Regions from separate parts of the Homo sapiens genome. Here all the other regions are linked to region 2. The links come from fine-mapping of genetic effects on gene expression. A gene starts in region 2. Each other region holds a variant in brackets. All regions are shown on one strand. Distances are between the middles of the regions.

What was found.
Region 1: its variant is fine-mapped to the expression of EHD3 in esophagus mucosa (GTEx, PIP above 0.99).
Region 3: its variant is fine-mapped to the expression of EHD3 in whole blood (TOPMed, PIP above 0.99). The same link has a PIP of 0.9 or more in blood mononuclear cells.

Annotation. Positions count from the first base shown.
Region 1 is chr2:31,309,693-31,318,027 of GRCh38, forward strand. No RefSeq gene overlaps it. Among named protein-coding and RNA genes, the nearest start is that of EHD3, 80 kb to the left of the region's middle. The variant T/C (reference allele first, on the strand shown) is at 5,260.
Region 2 is chr2:31,230,454-31,238,788 of GRCh38, forward strand. It overlaps EHD3 (EH domain containing 3), which reads left to right and starts at 3,699. Exons shown (of 6, transcript NM_014600.3): 1 at 3,699-4,395. The coding sequence starts at 4,169. It also overlaps a transcript of CAPN14 not described here.
Region 3 is chr2:31,251,702-31,260,036 of GRCh38, forward strand. All of the region lies in intron 3 of EHD3 (EH domain containing 3), which reads left to right. It overlaps LOC124905983 (a long non-coding RNA gene), which reads right to left. Exons shown (of 4, transcript XR_007086270.1): 2 at 5,955-6,146. Among named protein-coding and RNA genes, the nearest start is that of EHD3, 22 kb to the left of the region's middle. RefSeq lists enhancers at 1,025-1,104, 1,145-1,194, 1,475-1,554, 4,506-5,333, 5,419-5,468. The variant G/A (reference allele first, on the strand shown) is at 3,271.

The DNA of each region.
Region 1 (8,335 bases), 79 kb after region 2:
GTTTCAAGATTTGTAACTCCTTTTAACAGTTCTTGTAGTCCTGGCTTGGTAGTGGTGAATTCTCTCAGCATTTGTTTGTCTGAAAAAGATTGTATCTTTCCTTCATCTATGAAGCTCAGTTTTGCTGGATACACAATTCTTGGCTGCTAATTGTTTCGTTTAACGAGGCTGAAGATAGGGCCCCAATACCTTCTAGCTTGTAGGGTTTCTAGTGAGAAATCTGCTGTTGATCTGACAGGTTTTCCTGTATAGGTTACCTGGTGCTTTTGCCTCACAGCTTCTAAGATTCTTTCCCTTTGTCTTGACTTTAGGTAACGTGATGACCATGTCCCTAGGTGATAATCTTGTTGTAATGAATTTCCCAGGTGTTATATGAGCTTCTTGTATTTGGATGTCTAGGTCTCTAGCAAGGCCAAATAAATTTTTCTCAATTATTTCCCCAAATATGTTTTCCAAACTTTTAGATTTCTCTTCTTCCTCAGGAATCTCAGTTATTCCTAGGTTTGGTTGCTTAACATAATCCCAAACTTCTTAGAGGGTTTGTTCATTTTTTCTTATTCTTTTTTCTTTGTCTGTGTTGGATTGGGTTAATTTGAAAACATTGTCTTCAAGCTCTGAAGTTCTTTCTTCTTGTTTGATTCCATTGCTGAGGCTTTTCAGGACATTTTGCATTTCACTAAGTGCGTCCTTTATTTCCTGAAGTTGTGATTGTTTTTTATTTATGCTAGTTATTTCACTGAAGATTTCTCCCCTTATTTCTTGTATCATTTTTTTTTATTTCCTTAAATTGGACTTCAGCTTTCTCTGGTGCATTTTTGATTAGCTTAAGACTGAACTTCTAAATTCTCTTTCAGGTAAATCAGGGATTTTTTCTTGGTTTGGATCTATTGCTGGTGAGCTAGTGTGATTTTGGCAGGGGTTGGGGGGTGGCTGTTAAAGAACCTTGTTTTGTCATATTACCAGAATTGTTTTTCTGGTTCCTTCTCATTTGGTATGCTATGTCAGAGGGAAGATTTAGGGCTCAAGGCTGCTGTTCAGATTATTTTGTCCCACAGGGTGTTCCCTTGATGTAGTACTCTCCCCCTTTTCCTAGGGATGTGGCTTTCTGGGAGCCGAGCTGTAGCGATTGTTATCTCTCTTCTGGATCTATCCACCCAGCAAGTCTACCAGGCTTCAGGCTGGTACTACAGGTTGTCTGCACTGAGTCCTGTGATGTGAACTGTCTTTCGGTCTCTCAGCTGTGGGTACCAACACCTGCTCCAGTGGAGGTGGCAGGGGGTGAATTGGACTCTGAGAGGGTCCGTAGTTTGGGTTGTTTAATGCACTGTTTTTGTGCTGGTTGGCCTCCTGCCAGGGGGTGGTGCTTTCAAGAGAGCATCAGCTGTGGTAGTATAGGGAGGATCAGGCGGTGGGTTGGGGGTCCTATAACACCCAAGAGTATATGCCTTTTGTCTTCAGCTACCAGGGTGGATAGGGAAGGACCATCAGGTGGGGGTGGGGCTCGACGTGTCTGAGCCTTGGGTGGGTCTTGCTGCAGCTGCTGTGGGGGTTGGGGCTGTGGTTCCCAGGTCATTGGAGTTATGTTCCTAGGAGGATTATGGCTGCCTCTGCTATGTCATGCAGGTGGTCAAGGAAGTGGGAGAAATCCAGAAGTCACACTCTTCAACCAGCTTCCACATGACCCAAAAAGTGGGTCTCACTCCCACTGTGTCCCACCCAGCCCCATCAACAGCAACAGTCTGTTTCCAGCCAGCAGGTGAACAGGGCTGAGAACTTGCCCCAGGCTACAAGCCTCCCAGCTGCAAAAGCAAGTAGGGCTTTTGTGCTTCCCCACCTGTGGATTCTGCACAACAGATTCATGCCCTCCCCTGAGTTCTGGCCAGGAAACTTTGCGTTTGGTTGGAATTTTTACAAAGTTCAGCTGGAGATTTCCTTCTCCCTGTGGTCTTTTCTTAGTTCCTCCCCTCCCCAAGGACCCCTGTCAGACAAGTCTGAAATAGCTTCCCAGGAGACTCAGAGCCCACAGGGTTTTTGCCACTGCTTCCTCTACCACTGTATTTTGCTCAGCTTTCTAAATTGACTTAGCTCCAGGTAAGGTCAGAATCTTCTCCCATAATTTAGACCCTCAGGTTCCCCAGTGAGGGTATGTGTTTGGGGGCAGACGATCCCCCTTTCCCACCTCCACAGCTTAGGCACTCACAGTATTTGGGCTGTCTCCCGGGTTTTGCAGGGGCAATCCACTTCCTTCAGAGGGTCTGTGGGTTCTCTTGGCTTTCCTGGTTTATTCCTGCAGTATTCTGGAGTGGTTAGTTAACACTGAGGTTTAAAACCCTACACTCTTGCCAAAACTCAAGGAAAACATGGGCAGCTCCCTCCATCTCCTCCCTTCCTAGGAGAGAATAAGGAAAGGCATGTGGCCTAGAAGCAAGGGGAAGAAAGAGGGCCAGAAGGAGAGAGGAGACCAGCATGTGCCCAGGATTAAAATCAGGCAAGTTCTCCACTTACGAGGGAAAGAAGGACATTGTCAAACTGCCTTTAGAGAAAGGACAGAGACAGAAGGGAGTTTTGTTCTTGTTGTTGTTGTTGTTGTTGTTGTGTTTGTTTGTTTGTTTTTTGAGATGGAGTCTCGCTCTCTCTCCAGGCTGGAGTGTAGTGGCACTATCTCAGCTCACTGCAACCTCCACCTCCCAGGTTCAAGCGATTCTCCTGCCTCAGCCTCCTGAGTAGCTGGGACTACAGGCACGTGCCACCATGCCCAGTTCATTTTTGTATTTTTAGTAGAGATGGGGTTTCACCATGTTGGCCAGGATGGTCTCGATCTCTTGACCGTGTGATCTGCCTGCCTCGGCCTCCCAAAGTGCTGGGATTACAGGCGTGAGCCACCATGCCCAGCCGAGAGAAGGGAGTTTTAAATGTTCTTCAGTGTTTCCAAAGGGCCTTCTCCATGACCATTGCTGCTGTAAGCTTTCCCCTATAACCAGGAGGTCTGGCTACCCATGGCCCCACATCCGAAGGCTCAGTGGGTAGAAGAGCTGAGCCTTCTCTGGTGAGAAGTGAGGTGCTGGGCTTGGATATCGGTTTTTCAGCACACTAACCCAGTTACCACCCTCTTTCCTTCTCTCTCCACTAGTCACACACCCCTGTTTTCTAGGTGTGAACCACTGACAAAGCATTTTTCATGCACCTTGCTTTGGTGGTGATGTGGCCCACATCTACATAGGCTCCAACTACTGCCAGCAGCTGGTGGAATGACTTAAGGTCTAGCAGAAGTCATATGGATAGGTCATATTGATAGAGTCATATCGCTATCCCTGGCGATTACTGCAGGTGCAGTAATCAGCTCAGACAGCACTGTGTGTCTGCTTAATCAGATGAGTGTCTGGATGATGTGTGTTATTTGAGAAGAGCACAGAGATTTGAGTAGTTCAGCCCAGATTCAAGCTCTGACTCAGCTACTTACCCACCCAGTACATGACGTGAGTGAATTAGTTAACTTCTCTGAGCCTATTTCCTTATCTGGAAAATAGAATTAATGCTGACATCATAGGATCACTGTGAACTAAAGTGGTTAATTAAAAACAAAAGTATTTGTGAGGTATGAAAGCCTGCAGTGATATGGGACACCATAAAGGTGGAGAACGTAGTATCTGAAGTTGAAGAGCCCGGCACTTGGGTTCCAGCTACACTGGTCACTAGTGCGGGGACCTTGAACAGATGCTGATGCTTTTATTTTTAATATAGACTTTTTGTTTTTCAGGCAGGGTCTCCTTCTATCACCTACGCTGGAGTGCAGTGGCATAAACATGACTCACTGCAGCCTTGACCTCCTGGGCTCAAGTAGTCCTCCTACCTCAGCCTCCTGAGTAGCTGGGAACACAGGCACATGCCACTATGCCCAGCTAATCTTTCAGTTTTGTAGAGACAGGGTCTTGCTATGTTGCCCAGGCCAGTCTCAAACTCCTGGGCTCAAGCAATCCTCCCGCCTCAGCCTCCCAAAGTGCTGGGGTTACAGGCATGAGCCACTGTGCCCGGCTAGACTTTAATTTTTAGAGCAGTATTAGGTTCCCAAAAAAATTGAGTTGGAAGTACAGAGATTTCCCATATATCACCCCCAACCCCAGCTTCCTCCACTGTCAACATCCCATGCTGAAGCGGTACATTAGTTACAATTGATGAACCTACACAGACCCATCATTATCACCCAAAGTTCATACTTTGCATTAGTGTTCACTCTTGGTGTACATTCTAAGGGTCTGGACGAATGTATAATGACATGCATCCACCATTACAACATCATGCTGAGTAGTTCCACTGCCCTAAAAATCCTCTGTTCTTCACCTGTTCATCCTTTGTTGCCCCCAGACCCCTGATAACCACTGATGCTTCTACTGTCTCCATAGTTTTGCCTTTTTCATAATGCCATGTAGTTGGAATTACACAATATGTAGCCTTTTCAGATTGGCTGTTTCACTTAGTGACATGCATTTAAGCTTCCTCCATGCCTTTTCATGGTTTGATAGCTCATTTTCTTTTAGTAATGAATAATACTCCATTCTCTGGATGTACCAGTTTATTTATCCATTCGCCTACTGAAGGAAATCTTGGTTGCTTCCAAGTTTTGGCAATTACAAATAAAACTGCTGTAAACATCCATGTGCAGGTTTTTTTGTGGATCTAAGTCTTCAACTCAATTGGGCAAATACCCAGGAGAATGATTGCTATATCATATTCACTTTTCTGAGCCTCATTTTCTTCACTGGTAAAGTGGAGATAACAATAGTCCCATAGGGTGATTGTGAAGTTTAATTGAGATAATGCACATGAAGCCCTTAGCAATGCACCCAGCACATAGGCAATACTCAACTAATGGTAGCCCATCCTTGTTATCCTATTCAAGAGTAATGACAATACAAATGTGAGAGATGGAAATTCAAGTATTGACCGAGGGATATGACACATGGAGGTGGCATAGTCATGCGTCATCTGTCCATACTCCAAGAGGGCACAGGGCAACAAGAAATACTAGAAGACAGTCAGGGCACCACTGCTGCCATTGAGGTGGGATCTGGTCATCTCCTAGGGCCTGTGACCCTGAGTCCTGCAGTCCTGAGCTGCCAGGGTAGGGGAGGTGGAGATCAACCCATGGTCCCACAGTGAAGTGTGTCCCAGCTTTAGCAAACCAAGGTATCCTCCCACTGTGCATTCCTCTCCTCCCCAAGCCTGCTCCTCCAGCAGCTCCCCACTCCCCTCCTTTTGACT[T/C]ATCTGAGCCAAGCCCTGTCCCTAACTAGAAACTCAGAGGTGATGAAAACAAAGTTTTTTCCTCGCTTTACTTACTTCCTGTGAACTCGCTTAATTGTTCCCAGATTACTAGGTCACCAGGAGGATTTGGTACCTTGGATTTTTTTTTCTTCTTCTTCCTTATGCTTTCTGGAGACAACAAGGGTCACTTGGGGTCCTGCCTTGTGTGGCAAGGGTATGCTGATCGGATTTCTCTGGAATCCATTTCTGTGGTGTTTCTTGAGTGAGGGGATGGACTGAGTGGCCTGGGTGGTGTGTGGCTTTCAGAAAGCAATGCATTATTTTCTGCAGAAGTAACTAAAGACACGTTCTCTGAGCCTCCAGTGATAGGCCATGTTAGCTGGAAACAATAATGGTGGTTGTATTTCTGTTGTTTCTATCTCAGCCTTTCTTTTTCAGGCTGCCATAGAATTATTAAATGGTTTGAGTCAAAATCAGGCCTGAGCCTTTCAGAAGCCTTTCCTTAGACAAACACCGCTGGTAACGCTTTAGTTTAGCCTTCTGACAAGTGGGTCTCATTACTCCACCCATGTGCCCTTCCCCTCTGCTCCCATTCCCCTCTCTTGGATAAAAGCCTGGGGAGGAGTGAGAACTGCTTTGCCCTGTGCTCTTGGAGCAGGGCCTTTCTCTCAGGATACAAAGCCCTTGGGGAAGCAGGCAATTCTGCCCATGATGCTTCTGATGCTTTGGGTGGAAAAGGTTGCCACCCGAGAGCCTGGTTTAGGCACCACTCCAGCAACACCCAGGAATCAGCTGAGTGTCCCCCAGCATGTCACCTCCACGGTGAGGGTGTTGGACCTGATGACCTCTTCTAGATCCATTTTTAAACATTTCTCCAAGTGACTTTAGCACTACCCAGTAGAGGTTTCTACAATGACAGGAATGTTCACTAAAGGCTACCCTGTACAATAATGGCAGCCACTGGTCACGTGTTGCCTTTGAGCACTTGAAATGTGAATGGTACAGTGCAGAAAGACTTATTTCATTTAATTTTAATTAATTTAAATTTAAGGAGCCACAAGGGGCTAACGGCTACCATATTAGACAACACAGGCCTAGGCTACTGGATTCTGTATGTTTAAAACTGTGTGTTCCATCCATTCTATCTAGAAATTATACCACATCCACCCATGTCTCTTCATTTCCACAGTATCCACCTTAAGCTGAGCCACCAACATCTCTTTCTTAGGAAATGACAATATTTACTCCTTGGTTTCCTTTCTCTAACTTTAGCTCCCTCTGATCCGTTTGCTACAGTGAAAAGTGATCTTAAAACAAAAATTGACCAAGTTACTCTTCTCCTCAAAATCCTTCAACAACTTCCCCACTGCAGTAAAATTGAAAACCCCTCATGAGGCCTGCAAGTGCCTGCATGCTCTGAGCCCTGCTCCCTTGAGTGTCTGCACAGTCTGAGCCCTGTTCCTTCAAGTGTCTGCACACTCTGAGCCCTGTTCCCTTCAGGCCTCATGCTGTCTCAGTCTCCCCACTGTACCCACCACAAATTAGGCTTCTGGAAGCCATCAAACCCTTTTTCAGTTCAGGTCCTTTGCTTAAACTTCCCATTTGTTCTAGAGCTGTGCTGTCCAATACAGATGCCACTAGCCACATGTGGTTTTTAAGAAATATGTATTTTTTCATTAATTAAAATTAAACAAAACTTAAGATTTATTTCTCAGTCACACTAGACACGTTTTAAGTGCTTGCTAGTCACATGTGGCTGATGGTTACCATATTGGACAGCACAACAGTTCTTTTGGACAGCACAGTTCTGGGACATTTTTCCCCACACTTGAGCTTAGCTAATTCCTACCCATCCTTCAAGTCCAACATTCCATAGAGGCCTTTTCTGACCCTCCACTCTAAATTAAGGGTCCCCGCTTTATTTCTCACAGAACCTGCAATTTTCCTTTTCAGTTCTTCCAACTCTTTGCAAAATTATAGTTACGTGTCTGACTGTTTAATATTCATGTTTCCTATTAAGATCTAAGGCAGTGTCTCTTTTGTCCACCTGTCAATCCTCAGCCCCTGTCTCAGTGCCTGGCACTTAGCAGGAGCTCATTCATGTTGAGTGAATGAATGAAATAATGAATACGTATATAGATGGGTATAGTGGCTAAACATCATTTACTTGCCTAAAGAAACACAAAATCAAGAGTGAGAGCTTAGGAACCACATGGTCCTGAAATAAAACTCTGACTTCCATTCTTATTCTAACCTTTGGGAGCCACTGTCTCCTCATGTAAAAAACGAATGTTATTGCCATCTTAGACTGCTGTGCTGAGGAGTGAATGGGCTGACACAGGCAAAGCCCTCAACATATAATTATAATAGGTGTCATGTGTACATGCGTTTTTTTCTCTTTATCCCCTCTGCTATGTCCTTCTATCCTTCTCCATGGTCCCCTCCCTTCCACGCTGCATCTCTGGACCTGGCCTCTGCGTCTCTCATGCCTCAGGCCCATCCCTCTCTAAGAGATCTTTAGTTCCTGCCAACCTGTCGCAACTCAAGGATTAAACTAAACATTTCTCCAGCATAGAGCACCCCCTATGTTTGGGCATTCTTCACTGTCTTCCCTGTATGTGGCTGTATAAACCAGCCTGAACTACCTTCCCACCCAGAGCTCATAAAGGCAGACTCCAGCCTGCAAATGCTCTCAGAATAGCATTTGCTCAGAATAGCAGGTGCTCTTAACACCTGGCAGAGAGGGGCCCCATTCTCTTTGGGCATTTTCCATCAATTTGTATCTGCAGACCACATGCATCAGAATCACCTCCAGGGCTTGTTTAAAATTCAGATTCTTGGGTCTCACTCTAGATTTATTTAACCAGAATCTCTGCAAGGGGGGCCCTGAACCTGCATTTTCAATAACCAGCTCAGATGATTCAGAGCTCTTGTCAAGCCTTCTCAGGGTATAACATTTAACCCCGGGGAATACTGGGAGGATGGTTCCGATAAGCCACTCACTGATCCTCCTTTAATGTTTATACAATTTCATTTTTACATCAAAAGATCATTTACCAAACACCTACCTAGTGAG
Region 2 (8,335 bases):
TTGTGCCAGCCTGCACGCCCATCAGCATTTTATGAGAGCTCCCATTGCTCTACATCCTCACCAACCCTACCATCCAACTTTTTATTCTTGCCATTTTGGTGGGTATGGAGTGTTAGTGTGGTTTGGCATTTCTCTAATTACTAATGAGATGCAACATGTTTTCTTGCGTTTATAGGGCATTCATGTAGCCTCTTGTAAAAGACATTTTTGTAGCTCTTGCCAAGTTTTTTTCTATTGGAATGTTTGTCTTTGTTATCGATGCACAGCCATTAGTTCTATATTCTGGATGTGCTTTCATGGGTTTTTGTGTATAGGAAATATCTTTTCACTCACTTTTGTATTTTTAGTTGAACGAAAGTTTTAAATTTTGCTAGTGCTAAACTTAGTTTTTTTCATTTTTCAGTTTGTGCTTCTGACGTCTTGTTTAAAGAACTCTTCCTGACTTTGTGGTGATATATATGCAATCTCTATTGCAACTTCTGTATATGTCAGGCTTCCAAATTTCCTGGCTATTTACTGTGTTGTTATTCTGTTGGTCTCTGTGCCAAAACCATATTAACCACTGTAACTCCATAACAATGTCCACTAGGGCAAGTCCTCTTCGCTTAGTTGTTGCCATTGCTATGTTACTGTTGTCCTCTTCTCTTCTCTGTTCTCCTTTTTCTGCCCTCCTTCCCCTTCCACCTCTCCCTCTCCTCCTCCTTATTCTTCTTATCTTCTTTCTTCTCCTGGAATATCTAAGCTTTTTTTTACTATTGCTCTATAAGTTATACATTTTAGAATCACCTTGTCAATTTCCATGGAAAACCTTATTTAGATTTTGATTTCAATCATATCTCTCAATTATTGAATTTATCAATCATGTTGTAAAGAATTCACATGTTTGTGACAAGGAATCCTTCCACAATGGAACATGGCATGTCTCTCCCATTTACTTAGAACTTCTTTAACATCTTTCTATAAAGTTTTATTATTTTTCACATAAAGATCTTGCATATCTTTTGTCAGATTTATCCGTAAGTTTTTGTTCTTTTGAACACAGTATCTTTTTTGAATATTATCTTTCATGACCTTTTATTGCTAGTCTATAGAAATGCTCCATTAGTTCCTTTTTTAAACAGATAGATTTCAACTACTCAAGACTGAGACGGGAGTAGATGTGTCAACACGCACTTGGTAAATTAGATATTCGGAACAGACATTCAGCAGTAGACAATGGCATGGCCGTACTGATTACAAAATTCTTGAAATACTTCCATAATGGGGCCCCTTGATTTCTTTCCTGTCACGCTGGCCATACTGACCTCTCTCCGGGGACAGGCTCAGATCTCTCCAAGGTCCAGACGCCACTGTATTAACACCAGGCGTGGCACGGGGCCGCAAGCCTTGCTCCACTAGGAAGGCCAGTGTCTGTTCCGGGTGTTTGATTCTCATGCCTTGTGAGTTGTTAAATATCTTTAATATTACTCCTTAGGTTCGTATGTTGGTAGTAGCTAAACACCAAGGGTGAAATATTAATCTGAGTGAATTCTCAACAAGAGATGATCAGTTTTGGGGTTCAAGGAGGGAGTCGGGAGATCTGAGATGTAACTAAGGAGATTCTATTCAGCACTGGCCTCTGATAATCCCCCCTCCCCTGAAATCCCTGCAGCTTCACCACACTCCTCTTGAAGCTCCTGCAGGCACTTCAAACGCAACACGTTTTAGATTGAACACATTATCTCTGTCTGCTAAATCAGCTCTCTCTCTGCCTCCCCTAATTAGTGGAAGAGCTTCTCCAATGATCTTATCCCCTATGGTAGAAAATTCAAAATCATCCTAGACTGTGCCTCACCCTTATGTCCTCTTTTTTTTATCACATACCAAGATCTGACAATTCTATTCCATGAAAAAAATCTTTTGAGTCTGACCTCTTCTCCAATCCCATTGCAGCTGTCTCCTAAGTTTTGGAATAGTTTCCTAAATGGTCTCTTGGCCTCTGTATTCGTCTGTTTTCACACTGCTGTGAAGAAATACCTAAGACTGGGTAATTTATAAAGGAAAAAGGTTTAATTAACTCACAGTTCTGCATGCCTAGAGAGGCCTCAGGAAACTTACAGTCATGGCATAAAGGGAAGCAAACACGTCCTTCATAAGGCGGCAGGAGAGAGAAGTATGAGGAACCAAGTGGGAAGAGCCCCTTATAAAACCATCAGCTCTCACGAGAACTCACTCACTATCATGAGAACAGCATGAATGAAACTGTCCCTATGATCCAATCTCCTCCCACCAGCTCTCTCCCTAAACGCATGGGGATTATGGGGATTACAATTAGAGATGAGATTTATGCGGGGACACAAAGCAAAACCATATCAACCCCCAACCTCTTTTGCCCCTCCAACACTGCTCTTGGCATTCCAGTTCCTGCCTGGTCCATAGCCTACTCCTTCTTCATCTGTGGAAGGGAGGGTAGTGGGAGTCATTAGCCTGGGCAGGGAGGAGTGTTTTATCACTACACTGTTTAGAATGGTGCCAATACAAAGCACATCAACTTTCAGCAAGTTTATTATTGGGTTTAAATTCTCTACACACGATGCACTGCTTTTGCCTACACCTGGACAGTGTTCCCACTCACTCTCCTTAGTATGATGCTGGAGATAATATGATCTGCCATGAAGGTTAAATAAAGCAATGTTCACTGAGAACTTAGCCCAGGCCCCTGCACATGCTGAGCATTTTGTTAATGTAACAATGATTAGTAATAGCATTGCTATTGGTTCCCCATCTCTGGCAAAGCCTTTCATGCTTGGCCTCCCTCACTCTCTTTCACCTTCCTAAACCCTACACTCCAGCTATGCCAAACTGTTTACTCTGCCTTGGACACACCAAGTTCCTCAAGCCTTTGCAAATACTCCTTACGCTCCTAGAACAATGGATGTCAATTCATCATTTAGGATCCAGCTTACAGTCATGCTTTCCATGAAGCCTTCCTCAAATTAGCCACACAAAAGGAGTGACTCCTCCCTGTATTCCCATGACCCTCTGCTCATGCCTCCTCTTTAAAGCCTGCCTTCACTGGAGTTCCTGGAAGGGAGAGTCTGTTCAGCACTCATCTCTGTATCCACAGTCACCAAAATTGTAACTGCCCCATAATAAATTCCCAATACTTGCAGGGATTTTGCTTCTTGGCTTGTTTTGTTTTGCTGGAATGAATGAATAAGTAAATGGGAACGATTTTGACTTCACCCTAAGCCTAGCTAAAAGTTTGGGTAGTGACAGTTTTGGTTATTTTGTGTAACCTGATAGTGGATCCCCTTTCTATGCCAAAAAAAAAAAAAATCCCCCAATACTAGAGTACCTGTTTTCCTAGGGAATTGACCTCAGCAACTGAAGGAGAGGCGATTCAAAGCAGGGAGTGTGATGAATAGGTCAACTCTGTCCTCGCAGCCGTCCCTGAGAGGGCGCTGTTCCCAAATCGAAGCCCCAGAGGCGGAGACTGAGACACCGGCACTCTCCCACTGGACTGGGTCAGCATCCCTCTCCCCGCGCGGCCGCAGGTCTAGAGCTGAGCGCCTGCCCACAAACATGGCGGCGCCCTGCGCGGCTTCCCGTCGCCGCAACCGTGGGGCCGGCCCTGCCTTGCCAGTACTAGGGGACTTCCTCTGCGCGCCGGCTTCCTGCCCAGCTGGCATTTAAACCACCGCCTGGGGCTGCAGGATGCTGCTGCGGATGCAGAGCTGTCCGCGGGCTGGGCAGCGTCGCCGTCTCCCCTGAGCCGCCTCGGTCCGGCAGGAGCGGAGCCGAAGCATCCCTTGCTGCACGCAGGGCAGAGCAGGCGAGGGCTGGGGGCCGATCGGGGACCCCGGCTTGGGACCCCGGCATCTGGCAGTTTCCTTGCAGGTTCAACTTTAATTGCCAAGATTTCACCCCTCCTCCTCAAGCCCAGATTATTTATCCTCCCTCCGGCCTGGGCTGCTGGATGCAGCAGCGGCTGGGCTTGGTCCCAGGAGCAGGGAGAGTGCGCTCCCGGCCCTCCTAGCCGCGTGCCCGGGCCATGGTGCGGCTGAGCCCCGCGCTTGGGTGAGGCGGCGGCGCGGCTCGGAGCCCGGCGGACCGGTCCTACGGGACATCTTCCCCTGAGGAGGAGTCTTCCCCTGGGGCTGCGTGCCGGGGGCGAGCGGCGGCCGCGATGTTCAGCTGGCTGGGTACGGACGACCGCCGGAGGAAGGACCCCGAGGTTTTCCAGACGGTGAGTGAGGGGCTCAAGAAACTCTACAAGAGCAAGCTGCTGCCCTTGGAAGAGCATTACCGCTTCCACGAGTTCCACTCGCCCGCCCTGGAGGATGCCGACTTCGACAACAAGCCCATGGTTCTGCTGGTGGGCCAGTACTCCACTGGGAAGACCACCTTCATCAGGTGAGCCGGCCCAGGGTCCTGGCAGCCCACCCCGGAGCCCAGCGCCTAGTCCCTCCGGTCACTCCTGGTGCTCCATCCCAGACAGGGGACCAATGGGAAGCCTTCAGTTGAGGGCTCTGAAGAGATCTGTGTTTGTGCAGGCGTCAAAATCTTACCCCACAATTTTTGCTGGTCCCCCTTCCCATCCTACCCAATACCTGTCCACTCTACTTGGCCCTTGGCTGTGGTGGTCAACCTGAAGTATTCAAGTGTAAAGCCATTCCCAGTCTCCCCATCTTATGGATGATGAAACCGAGGCCCAGGAGGCACAATGGAAGAGCTCCTGGTCTCTGGAGCGCCTTATGTTGGTGGGGATGTCTTACGTCTTCACTTTTTAGCAACACATCATTCACGGGCAAAACCTCTTCCCTTGTTTTTCAAGGGGCTTGGCACTCACATGGGGGCCTCACAGTTGCAGCTGAGTTCTGATGGGTGCGGGCCTGGGAACGGAGGTGGCCTGGGGATGCTACTTGTCCTCCTTTTATCATTTCCTTCTCTAAAGCAGAGCTCCTGTGTATATATCTTGGAGACTCAACAGAAGCTGAGTCCAGAAGCAGAATGCTTTTTTTTTCCCCTTTCTCTTATTTGATCTTAATGGCTTAATAATAATATTAAAGACGCTTAGAGATGGAAGGGATATTGGCATTGTCTCATCCAGTTGCTGAGTTTGCAGGTGAGATAACCGAGGCGCAGAGAAGTTAAATGAATTGTGCAGAGCCATCTAAAGAGTGGGCAGCAGACCTGGGATGTTAAGTCCTAGATGCATGTGAGGAGATGCTTGGCTAAACGCCTGTAACTCTGAGAATGAGTCATCCATTCCCTTCAATTACAGAATCCTTGGGCTGGAGGGAGGCTCAAGAAGTCAATTTGTTCACCCTGCATTCAGAGAAGTCCACCAGAGGCCCTTCTTATCTTTAGAGAACAGGCTTCACTCCAGTCCTCAATCTTCCCAACTTCAAGGCCAGCCATTTTCTTGGCCCCTTTTATAGCCATTCCAAATTGTTGAGAATGCTGTGGCCCTCTGTCTTAAGACTCAGGCTCCCACAGCTTGAGAATGGAGTTTGGTGGCCCCCCAAAGTCAAGTGTGCTCATCTCCTGCAGAGGGTTTGGAAAGCAGGGGTACCCTTATTCCTATTCCTTGGCTGTTTGAGCATCCACAGCATGTGAAATGCTGTGCTTTGTTTGGTGAGGAGTGCAGAAAAGTTAACAGTCTAGTTACTAATTTTCTAGGTACTAATTTTCTCTAACATCCACCTTGTAACGCCAGCCTTCTGGAAGTAGCACCATGCTAATAGGTCATGTCTAAACACAACACCACATTGAGTTTGTCCTTGTGGAGTGCACAGCCTAGGGCTCAGCAGCTTTAAGAGGCCAAGTGATTTCTGAAGGAGTTTGGGAGGTGATGGGCCTGTTGGCTCTTGTATGTTTTATATTGATAGAACTGCAAGAGGCCTTAGAGATTAAACTAATCCATTGCTTCTTAACTTTCTATCTTTAGAAAAATGTACGTACATCCCAAATTTGCATATAATGTTGGGGGTCCAAGGGCCTTCTTTGGACTTTAGGGTGGGAACCCCTGATCTAAGCCATGCTTCTTGTTTTATTAAGCACCCATTGCTGCCAAAGGCACTTCAGAGCTGCCTGGGTTGCCTGCAGAGTTTCCTTTGTGAGCCCTGGCCTCCACTTGGCCCATTCATGCCTCAGGGGAAGTTCAGGCCATTTGCAGATGGCCCTTGCCCTCTCAGCCTTCCCTGGCTCTCTACACATATGGTATTTATAACCTTTCATACATTATCTGTAGCTTCTCCTTCCTGGTGTACAATCATTGACAAGACAACATCCATGCCTTAGCATCTCTGGGGCCTTGCCCAGGGTCTCGGCTATAGGAGGTTCCCAGTAGACATTTTGCAGAATGGGAGGGAAGATGGGGAGAGGTGAGGATCCCCAAGCAGCAGACAGGTTTGAGCGCCTTTTGTCTGAGACACTCTCCCGGCTTTGCCTAAGTCATCACTGGCTGTTAACTGGGTCTAAGAAAGTGGCAGAGTCAAATTGCCACAGATGATTCCTCATCTGAGGGAGACAGTAAGACCGGGAGAGGCAGATCGCTCTTCTTTCTTATCCTCCATGTGCAGTAGTTCCCTCTCCCCACTCATGTCAGCAACTGAATTTAGCTCATGCGTCAAAAGCTGTCTCCCCTTGAGGGAGTGTCAGCCAGCGCTGTAGGAGGGGTCATACCACAGGGAACCCTCCAGAACCAAATCATGTACTTTTCTTCTTTCTCATAAAATCCAGTAAACAGTTGTTTTTAATTGGAAAATATAGAAAAGAATAAATTTAAAGAAGAAAAAAAGTCACCCATAATCCCATGACTTAGGAGAAGCTATTTTAATTTACATATAAAATATATTTATATATAAAGCATATAATTTATATATAAATATATTTCCAGTATTTGTAGCTATTTTATAGCACAGTTGAGATCATGCTATACATATAATTTTGTATGCTGGCTTGTTTATTTTTGTTTTTGTTTTTGAGATGGAGTCTCACTGTGTCACCCAGGCTGGAGTACAATGGCACAATCTCGGCTCAGTGCAACCTCCGCCTCCTGTGTTCAAGCAGTTCTCCTGCCTCAGCCTCCCAAGTAGCTGGGGTTACGGGCACCCGCCAACACGCCTGGCCAATTTTTGTATTTTAAGTAGAGATGGGGTTTTGCCATGTTAGGCAGACTGGTCTTGAACTCCTGACCTCAGGGGATCCACCCACCTCAGCCTCCCAAAGTGCTGGGGATTACAGACGTGAACCACTGCGTCTGGCCAGTTTTTCTTACTTATAGCATGAACATTTCCTATGTTATAAGCGTTATTTGTCAGCATTATTTTTAACAACTGCATACTATTTCACTATTTGTATATACAATTATTCATTCAACTAATGAATAGCATTGTTTTTAACAGCTGCATACTATTCCATTGTGTGTATATACGATTCTTCACTTAATCTACTTCTCTTGGATGTTTTAGGCTATTTCTAATTTTTTGTTATTGTAGAATAATTCTGAATATCTCTGTGTATAATATTTTTTCCTATATTGTGTGTGTGTGTTTTTTTTGTTTGTTTTTGTTTTTGTTTTTTTGAGATTCCCAGAAGTGGAATTGCTAGGCCAAAGGTTGGGCAGGGTTTTGTTTAAAATATTTTTTAACTTTAAAATTTTTGTACTAAGAGTCATATTTTGCAGTTGTTTTCCGAGAGGGTGAGTTGACACTGCATCCCTTCCCCATTGCGAGTAAGGCTGCTCTGGGGTGGATAAGTGCGTCCATGCCTAGGTCTCAGAAGGCCTCCTCCTCTCCCTTCTCCCATCCCTGCTTCTTGCCTTGATTCTTGTCTCCATGCCAGGCCTGAACCTGTGAGGGGCCTTTTCCTCAGAAACAAAGATTTGCCTCTTTATTCCCCCAGTTCTTGGCGTTTTGCCCCTGAGGGTCCATCCACTTTCAGTAATATGTGCTTGCCACAGCGTCTATTTCTTGTCTGAGGAAGAACACACAGAAAAGGACATTCTTTTAATAACTAGTTAATGTGCTGTGATCTCTGCCTGAAATAACTTCCCCGGCCTAAGGCCCGGCAACACAGAGTAATAAAATGAACAGTAAATTGGCTTGGCGGCTGCCCTCTCCAACACAGGCTGCCTCTTTGGAGTACAGTAGCTCTGTGTCCCTCTGGCCCTGGCAGCCTTTCCTCCTGCCTCTGCTATTCTTCTCCCTTTGCTATTTCTCTGCCCGGCATGCAGCCTTGAATCCCTCCTTCCTTGGACCATCTGGCCCCTGGTCACTCCTTCTCGCTGCCTACTTCTGTGGCCCCTTATTCTGCAGGTAGTGGAGGTGAGTAGCTGGCTGCTCCAGGG
Region 3 (8,335 bases), 21 kb after region 2:
ACCCCTGGCCTGGGAAAATAGGGATGTCTGAGCCTCCCTCCTTCCAGCCAGCACGCACGCTGTAAGCACCTGGCTCCCTGTTAAGGGCCCTGTGGAGGGACAGCACGGGTGGTTTTTCTGTCTTGCTTTGGTTTGTTTGCCGGAGCACCCCCTTTCTCCTAACCCACCTATTCCCAACCCCAAGTGGTTCATCTGGGGTTTACCCTGCGTTTAAGCCTGAAGGGGATTTGCTGTTTCACTCAGGCAGCTCAGGACTCCTCCAGGAAGGCTGGGGAAAGCCACCCCTTCCCAGTGTGAACTCCCTGGGGGACGTCACATGTGCACCTGCAAGGCCAGTGTAGCCTGACCAGCGGGTCCAGAGAGGACTCCAGCCTCTGCGGTTTCCAAGGACACTGTACTAGGAATTCAGAGTTCTGGGCTTTAGAACCTGTGTGTGTCTCAACAGGTCACATTTTCAGTGTCCCCATGTGTAACAAGGGGTAATGATATGTACCACACAGCCGTCTTGTGAGGTCTATAGACCATATGAAAACACGGGCCATAGCCCTGGGTCTGGATCACCATGAGCTACCTTCCTCCCTCCCTCCCTGTCAGTTGGCACCACCTATCATACAATCCCAGAGTAATCTGTGTGAATAGTTTCCCTTGTAGTTGTGCAGTGCACAGCCTGTGCACCTGTATGTGGCAGGCTGGTTCCCAGGGACTCCTGCCTTCCTCAGTTCCTATCCTATTCTATTCTTTTCCTATTTCTGTTTTTGTTGTTGTTGTTGTTGTTGCTGTTGTTGTTGTTTTGAGACGGAGTCTCGCTCTGTCACCAAGCTGGACTGCAATGGCGTAATCTCGGCTCACTGCAACCTCTGCCTCCTGAGTTCAAGCGATTCTCCTGCCTCAGCCTCCTGAGTAGCTGGGACGACAGGCATGCGCCACCACACCCAGCTAATTTTTGTATTTTTAGTAGAGACGGGGTTTCACTACCTCTCTCCTGCCTTTGTCTTTGGACCCCAGTGACTGCCTTAAGCAAATTAGGCCCTTGGTGTTCTTGCCTGCACTTCCTAATGCCTCCCATCCCACATTGACTAAGCACCAGGTCCCCCTACCTCTGGGAGAAATGATGGCCCCAGGAGTGGCTTTGCAGGCCAGTTTGTTTTCTGCTTTCCTGAGTCCAGACTGTAAATGCAGCTGCTGGCAAAAGCAGCCTGCGTTAAAAACAAGAGCTAGAACTGGGCTGCTGGCGCCTGGGGCGGTGCTGACCTCAGCACCCTGAGGAGACCAGGACAGTTGGGGGAAGGGCGTCAGACACCCTCAGTTATCTGTGGTACCCCAAACGAGTAAAGTTTCCAGGGTGCAGAGCCCAACCCCTTTCTTTCTCACAATTGGCCTTAGAACACATAGCTCCAGTTTAAACTGACGCACACCTCCCCCACCCTCCCCCACCCATACCTCCTTTTACGCACACACCCACTCCCACACCCACACATGCATACACACTCCTCACACATATCCTGCATATACACAACTCCCCTCTTCCCCACAGCAACCCCCTCCCACACACACACACACACACACACACACACACACAAATGTGTGCATAGAACAAAACTTGCTTTCTCATGGCTTCTTGCCTAGGGCTCCAAGAGCTCTGGGTTTGGCCACAGAGCAGACTGGGTGCTTCTCGCCTTACTCCAGCCAGCCCAGGCAAGGACCGGACACCCTTCCTCCCTGGGATAGTCCTGCCAACTATGTCCTACACGAGGGCATCTAGAACCTGAAACTCAGCCCACCTTCTGCTCACTGAGCCTCATACCTGGCGCAGGGCTGTGTCTCACCAGATAAAAAGGGGCATGGTTATCAAGTCGGCACAGAGGCCCCTACTGGCCATATTAGACTGCCTGTTCTGCAAAGTGAGCTGCTTCCCAGGGCTCCAAGACCTCAGGCTTCACAGGAAGGAGCACTCGGGCCCCAGGCTGGACTAGGGCGGCAAAGGGTCGTCCTTGCTCAGGGTGTGGACCCTCTACTGGGCCTGGGGCGGGGTGTGTCTTGTGGGAAGAAGGCTGGGGTGCCCGGGAAGCTGATTCTGGGAGGTCCTGGGCCAGCACTTGTCTCTGGATGCAGATGCATTGGGGTGGGCAGGGGAGGAAGACAGGGAGGTGGTTCCTGGAAGTGGCAGGATGTGCCCCAGCCTGGCTCATTACTGGGAAGAAGTGAGGATGCAGCAGGAGTGGGAGGGCTCCAGAAGGCTGAGTGTCCTGAGCTTAGGAACCACATTTCCTGGCTGCTTCCCAGCTAGAAATCCCCATAGGCGCCACCTTAGGAAAGCAGGGCGGGGCTTTGTGCTCACATCACAGACTGCACAGCTTGAAGCTCCTCCCCACAGGCCCCTTTCTGCACAGGTGAGCTCAGTAAGGCCAGAGCAGGTTGAAAATTTGCCCGGATCACACATCTAGGGAACTCGGGTCTTCCTATTCCTGGTCCACGGCTTCTCAGCACATTATCATCACCTGCCCCGGAAGAGCACAGGGGGTAGGAATGAGGGCAAACCTCTCATCTCCAGGTTTCCTCTAGGGGTCTTTAGGGCTCAGACCTTGGCAGGTCTGGGCTGATCCTTGCAGCCTCACATTCCTAGCCCATCCAGGGCACCCTCATTGGAGCAGAGCCTGCACTTAAAGGCCTCTGGGTCTTCCCAGACTACGTGCCGGTACAGGCACGCCTGTGTGGGCGCTCCTGTGCCTGGGCAGAGCAGCCGAGTCCTGACGCCCTTCAAAAGGCCTTGCCAACCATCTGCTCGGGCCGCTCTTTGCCGTTACTTCTGGGAAGCATCTAATGTGGCATTTCTTCCCCGTTGTCAGCCAAACTCTTCCCACATTTTGGAAATTGATGCCTTGTTATTCCTCTTTTGCTCAAATGCCTTTAAATCTTGACGGAGATTTTTTTGGGGAGGGATGGGGTTTTGTATGTACCCACCGCAAGTAAGTGCCTGGTTTGAGGGCTCAGCCTCTGAGCTTCAGGCTCACATGGCTGTGAGCTGTTATAGAAAGAGAATGTGGGCTGCAAGTCAAGGAGCTGGGTTCCAGGCCTGAGTTTGCCACCACCTGGCTGTGTGAGCTTGGGCAAGCCCCTTAATCTCTTTGTGTCCAGATTCCCTGTCCTGTAAGATGTGTATGCCCTACTTACCTCCTGGGATACAGAGAATTATGAAGAGCGAATGAGGTCACGTGGCTGGAAACCCGAAGAAGTATGCTGCCCTGTGAGGGCCCAGGCACTGCATGCCAG[G/A]CCATGATGGAAGCCGGCGGGTGAGGAAGGGGTGGCTTTCCTTACTGTGTTTGTCTGATTGATTTCCTCTTGCCTGGCATTACTTCAAAGTGCTTTCTTTCCAGTCATCTGGAGCCTCCGGTTGGAGGGGACCATAGATCCCTGCAGGCTGCCCAGTCTCCAGGCCCGGAGCTGGCTGACTAGACCTCTTAGAGCCAGCAGACTTGTGCTATGAAGTCCAGGAAGGGCAGCTTCTCTGCTCTGTCTCTTGGGGCTTGAATCTCCCCCGACTCACTAGTCCATATTTCATGAACACTTGGGCTGCCGCAGGTGCCCAAGAGCTACCGTTGTGGGTCTCAGAGCCATCGCTGGGACCAGAGAGGGGAAGGGGGCCTGTCACTGGCCATAGCACTCACCGCAGCTGCTGAGGCAGTCTGTGCTGTCAGATCTTGTTGCCACAGCTCTACCACAGAGTCCTCATTCAGCTCTACCACAGACCCCTCATTCAGTCATTTGTTATCCCTATTTTGCAGCTGAGAAAATTGAGGTTCAGATTTGCCAAATAAATGAGAAAGCTAATCCTATACCATACCCTTTTTCTTACTGGGTCCAGTCCATACCTTTGAGATACCGCCATTCCTAGATCTGCACCTAAGTCCAGGCCAAGTGAACAACTAAATATCCACCCTACAGATGACACAGCCTCGGGGTTAGCCAGGAGCAGGGAAGTCGAGCTTCAGAGCAACCCATGGAGTCATTGCTTGATGGTCATGGTCTTCACAGCCACACCTGGCTGGAAGCTTCTGGCATTACTGAGTCTGTAATTGGATAGCAGCTTTCCAGAGCAAATAGGAGGCCTCTGCTTATAAAATCACGGAAAGAGTTCCCAGAAGCCCTTGGCCTGTCCTCAGGCAGAGGCAGACTTCACACAGGCATCCCCGAGGCCTGTAAGACAGCAGCCTGCAGCCTCTCTCTCTTGCTGTGCCTGCAAAGGGTCCCTTGTAGCTAATCTCCATCCATCCTGTTGTACTCCCCACCCTCACACCTCTGGTCTCAGATGCAGAGAATTGTGAACCGAGAAAGGAAGCTCGGAGGTTGTCCAGCTCAATCCCCTGATTTGACAGGCAAAGAGACAGAGGACTAGAGAGGGGAGATTCTTGCCCAAGGACACACAGTAAGTTAGTGGCTAAGCGGAAACGAGAGGTGGACTCACCCAGGCCAGTGCTCCTCTGGTGACTCCTACAGAGCACATCCCATCTCATAGAAACTAGGGCTTAAAAGGAGTGCTTTACAAAAAACAGCAGGGCAATGAGAACAGCCAAGGTCACAGCTCAGCAGTTTCACCTGCATCCTCTGATTTGTTTAGATCCTCACAATAACCCTACGACTGAGTCACTGATTCCTCAACCATAAAACTGAGGCCCAGAGATTACTCATTTACTGTCTCCCAGATGCCAAACGTGGAACAGGTTTCCACGTTTTCCACGTTTCACTTCCGTTCAGCAAATACTGATAGTGCACCTGCTGTGTGCCACACACCGTGCTGGGTGCAGGGGAAGCCCAGAAGGGTGAGGTGCTGCCCCTGCCCTGTCCAGCTCCCAGTGCACCGAGGATGATTTCAGTGAGCTGAAGAGCAGAACAGGAGCGTGCATGATGCTACAAGACCACTGAGGGCAGGGACAGGGATAGGCAGGGGTCTATCCTGTTCTGGCAGCATGGACATATTGCTGCCCCTCAGCCTTTGCAGACACAGCCTTCTCTTACATCGCTGGTGTCATCAGGGATTGCAGCAAGTTGCAGGGACAGAGCCTCTTCCCTTCTCTGCAGCTTCTCTGGTGTCTTTGTTTTCCCCAGCCTGGTGGAGGCGTGGCTACAGTGCAAGAGTTGAGTTTGGAGTTCAGGTCTTGGCTCTGACCCCCAGCATTGCATGGCCTTGGGCCTTTCTCTCACCCTCTATAAACCTCCATTACCTTGTCAGCATAGGACTCAACACTGGCTGCCCTGGCTGCCTTAGCCTGTTCTGAGCCATTGAGCCAATATATTGGGGCTGAGATTTGCTGGACAGGTGAGAGGGAGCTGCAGCCCAGTCTTGGTCCTCCCAGCAGCCCCTCCTGTGGCCTGCACTGGCACAGCTAAAATCCAGATTGGGGAATAAGGAGCAGCAGAAGGCCAGAGGCCTGGCAGGGAGTTGTGGAGGGTCCCTACTGCCCTCCTGCTGTGAGCTGTTTGCAGAGGTGGGGGTTGGGGATTTTCTTAGCCCTCTGGCCCCTCCCTACCCACAGCTCTGAGGGACTGCCTTTGGGAGGTGACAGCAGCCTTGCCATGCGCTGTGCTGAAGGGAAGATAAAAATAGGCTGGAGCCATCCCTGGGAAGGGAAGGATGGACAGAGGGATGTAGGAAGGAGGGGAGTAGTGCGGGCTGCAGGCTTCACCTGAAGTGGGAATGCTTAGGCTTCCCGGGCTCCAGTGAGGAGCTGGCTGTGCCTGCGTGCCAGGGAGGGAGGGAGGGAGGCAGGGAGCGGCCAGGTGCAGAACGGCTGGATGGCTGACAGCTGGGTCATCTGGCCTCACGACTTGCCAACTGTTTGACTCTCTCCTCTCTGAACCTCAGTTTCCTCCCCTGGAAGTGAGAACGATACTCCTCGCGCTGCCTGCCTCAGAGCGTGTCGTGAGGGTGACATGAGATAATGACATGAACATCTTACCGTCTGCAGCAAGCACTGAACTTCGAGTTGGAGGCTAGGGGTCGTGTCTCATGGGTGGTATTGGCTGAGTCACTTAACTCCTAGAGTTTGCGTGAACATCTCCGAGGGAGGGTTGATGATGCCCCTGCCCACTGGGCAGAGCAGCCTCTGAAGCACTTTCCTGGGCCTTGTCTCTGAGCCGAGACAGGACACCTGTGTTCAAAAGAGAAGGCAAAATCTAGTTCACACCAGGCCCTCGATGACGCACCCATCAGGAACTATCCTCAGGATGGCACCTGGAGATACTGGGCCAGCTCTGCCCCTTCCTGAGCCTCAGTTTCCCTATCTGTAAATCAGGAAGTTGGACCATTGATGGCTAAGCTCCTCGTAGCCTCATAGGTCTACGCCACAGGAGCAGGGGGAGAAGGCTCAGGTGTTAGTTGAGCTGTATATTCATTGAGCAGCTGACAGATCTTGGAGAAAATCACATGGCAATGGGAATGCTTGGAAGCACTTCATTTACCAAAGACAGAGGAGCTGAAAATGGAGTAGTACTGGCATCCGGGTAACCAAAGGAGGGTTTGACCTTCCTTTGTTTGTTAGAATTCTCTTACAGCCACCAGGGAAACATTACAGGGGTCCTCCAGGAAGCTTTAGGGCAGCAAGTTTTCCCGACCGTCTGATCCCATCCCCCTACCCCCTGTGGCAGTGCCTCCACACGTCCTAAATATGTACCCCACTGGGTGTTCACTAGATGCCACAGGGTGGGGGAAAGGCTTTTTAAACCTAGCTCCGTTGGCTCCATTCATCCTCATCCCCCACCCCATCGATGCCTGCTACTTAGTCTGAAATGACAGCCTTTGAAAGTGAAAGCCAACTCGGTGCAGTGGTTCATAGCACTGACTCCAGGGCTACCTTCCTGGACTTGAGTCCCAGCCCATTGCTTACCAGCTGGGTGACCTTAGACAAGTTCCTTTATCTGTTTGTATCTCTGGTTACTCCTCAGAGAAGTGGGGCTGATATTAGTGTCTAATGACCCTACACAGAGTCATCGTGAGGATTAAAGGAATGAATGATTATAAAGTACTTAGGTCAGTGCTGAACACCTTTTGAATGCTATTGTTATTTTTATGGGCCAGTGGTATTCAAAGTGTGGCCCTTGGACCAACAGCATCAGAATCTCCTGGGAGCTTGTTAGAAATGCTCTGCGCCAGACCTACTGAATCAGAAACTTTGGGGATAGAGTCCAACCATCTGGGTTTTAAGAAGCCCTGGGGGGATTCTGATGGAGGCTAAGTCAGGACCCCTGTTAAAGACAGTCAGAGCTTCTTAAGTCTGACTCACTCACAAGGCAGTTGCCTGATGATCTTGCCTGGTCTCTAGCCTCCCTCTGTGAGGCAGGGCAGGCTTTTTCCTAATGATTTGGTTTCCCATTCGATGGTGGCAATGAGCTTTGGGTCCCCAGTGTGTGTCACCTTGGAACCCTTGTGCTATGGGGAGCCAGGATGGTTGGTCACTTTAGTACCCAAGAAAGGGCTCCTACCTTGGTGCCAGAGGTATGCCACGGGGGAGTGGCAGGAGGAGAGGCTGAGAACCCTGCTCAGACTCAGAATGGGAAAGCCTAACACCTCCATCTTCATGCGACTGCTGCTGCTCATGGGCTGTGTGCCCTTCGACAAATCACTTGACTTCTCTGAGCCCCACTTCCTTATCTCTTGTCTTCCTATTTTATGTAAGAGGAGCCTGAGACACAGAGGTAAGACCTACTGGGGCTCTGGGTGTCAGTGAATGTATAGACTATTGGTCCACCCTCCTACTTCAGCTCCTACTGGATCCACAGCTACTTGGGATTGAGCAGAACAACTTCTCTGGGGCTCCTGTAACCAGTCTGACCTAAAGCAGCTTAGTGCTAGATAACCAAGATGCGGGTGGCCAGAGTTCCAGTCACATCCTAAGGAAGAAACCCCTTGTGGTTTCAAGAGTTGGGAATTTTGTGCTGCAGCTGATTACAAAGGAAAGAGCCTGAGTGAGAACAAGATGTTTTTATAACAAGAATTGCAGATTTCTTCCAGACCAGTGACAGGCATGGTCTGAACCATCATCAGTATCTACTTTTTAGTGTTTCATTGTTTTCAGACCTTAGAAAGAATTTCTGGGTCTTTGTGTCAGATTAGGTGTCCAGACTTTCTTTTCCAGCGGGCTGCTAAATACAGTAAGCACGGATAGGGGAGCTGGTATGGAAATAATGACGTTAATAAGAGTTACTAGGCCAGGCGCAGTGGCTGGCTGGGGGCGGTGGCTCACACCTATAATCCCAGCACTTTGGGAGGCCAAGGCAGGCGCATCACCTGAGGTCAGGAGTTCAAGACTCAGCCTGGCTAACATGGTTAAACCTGTCTCTA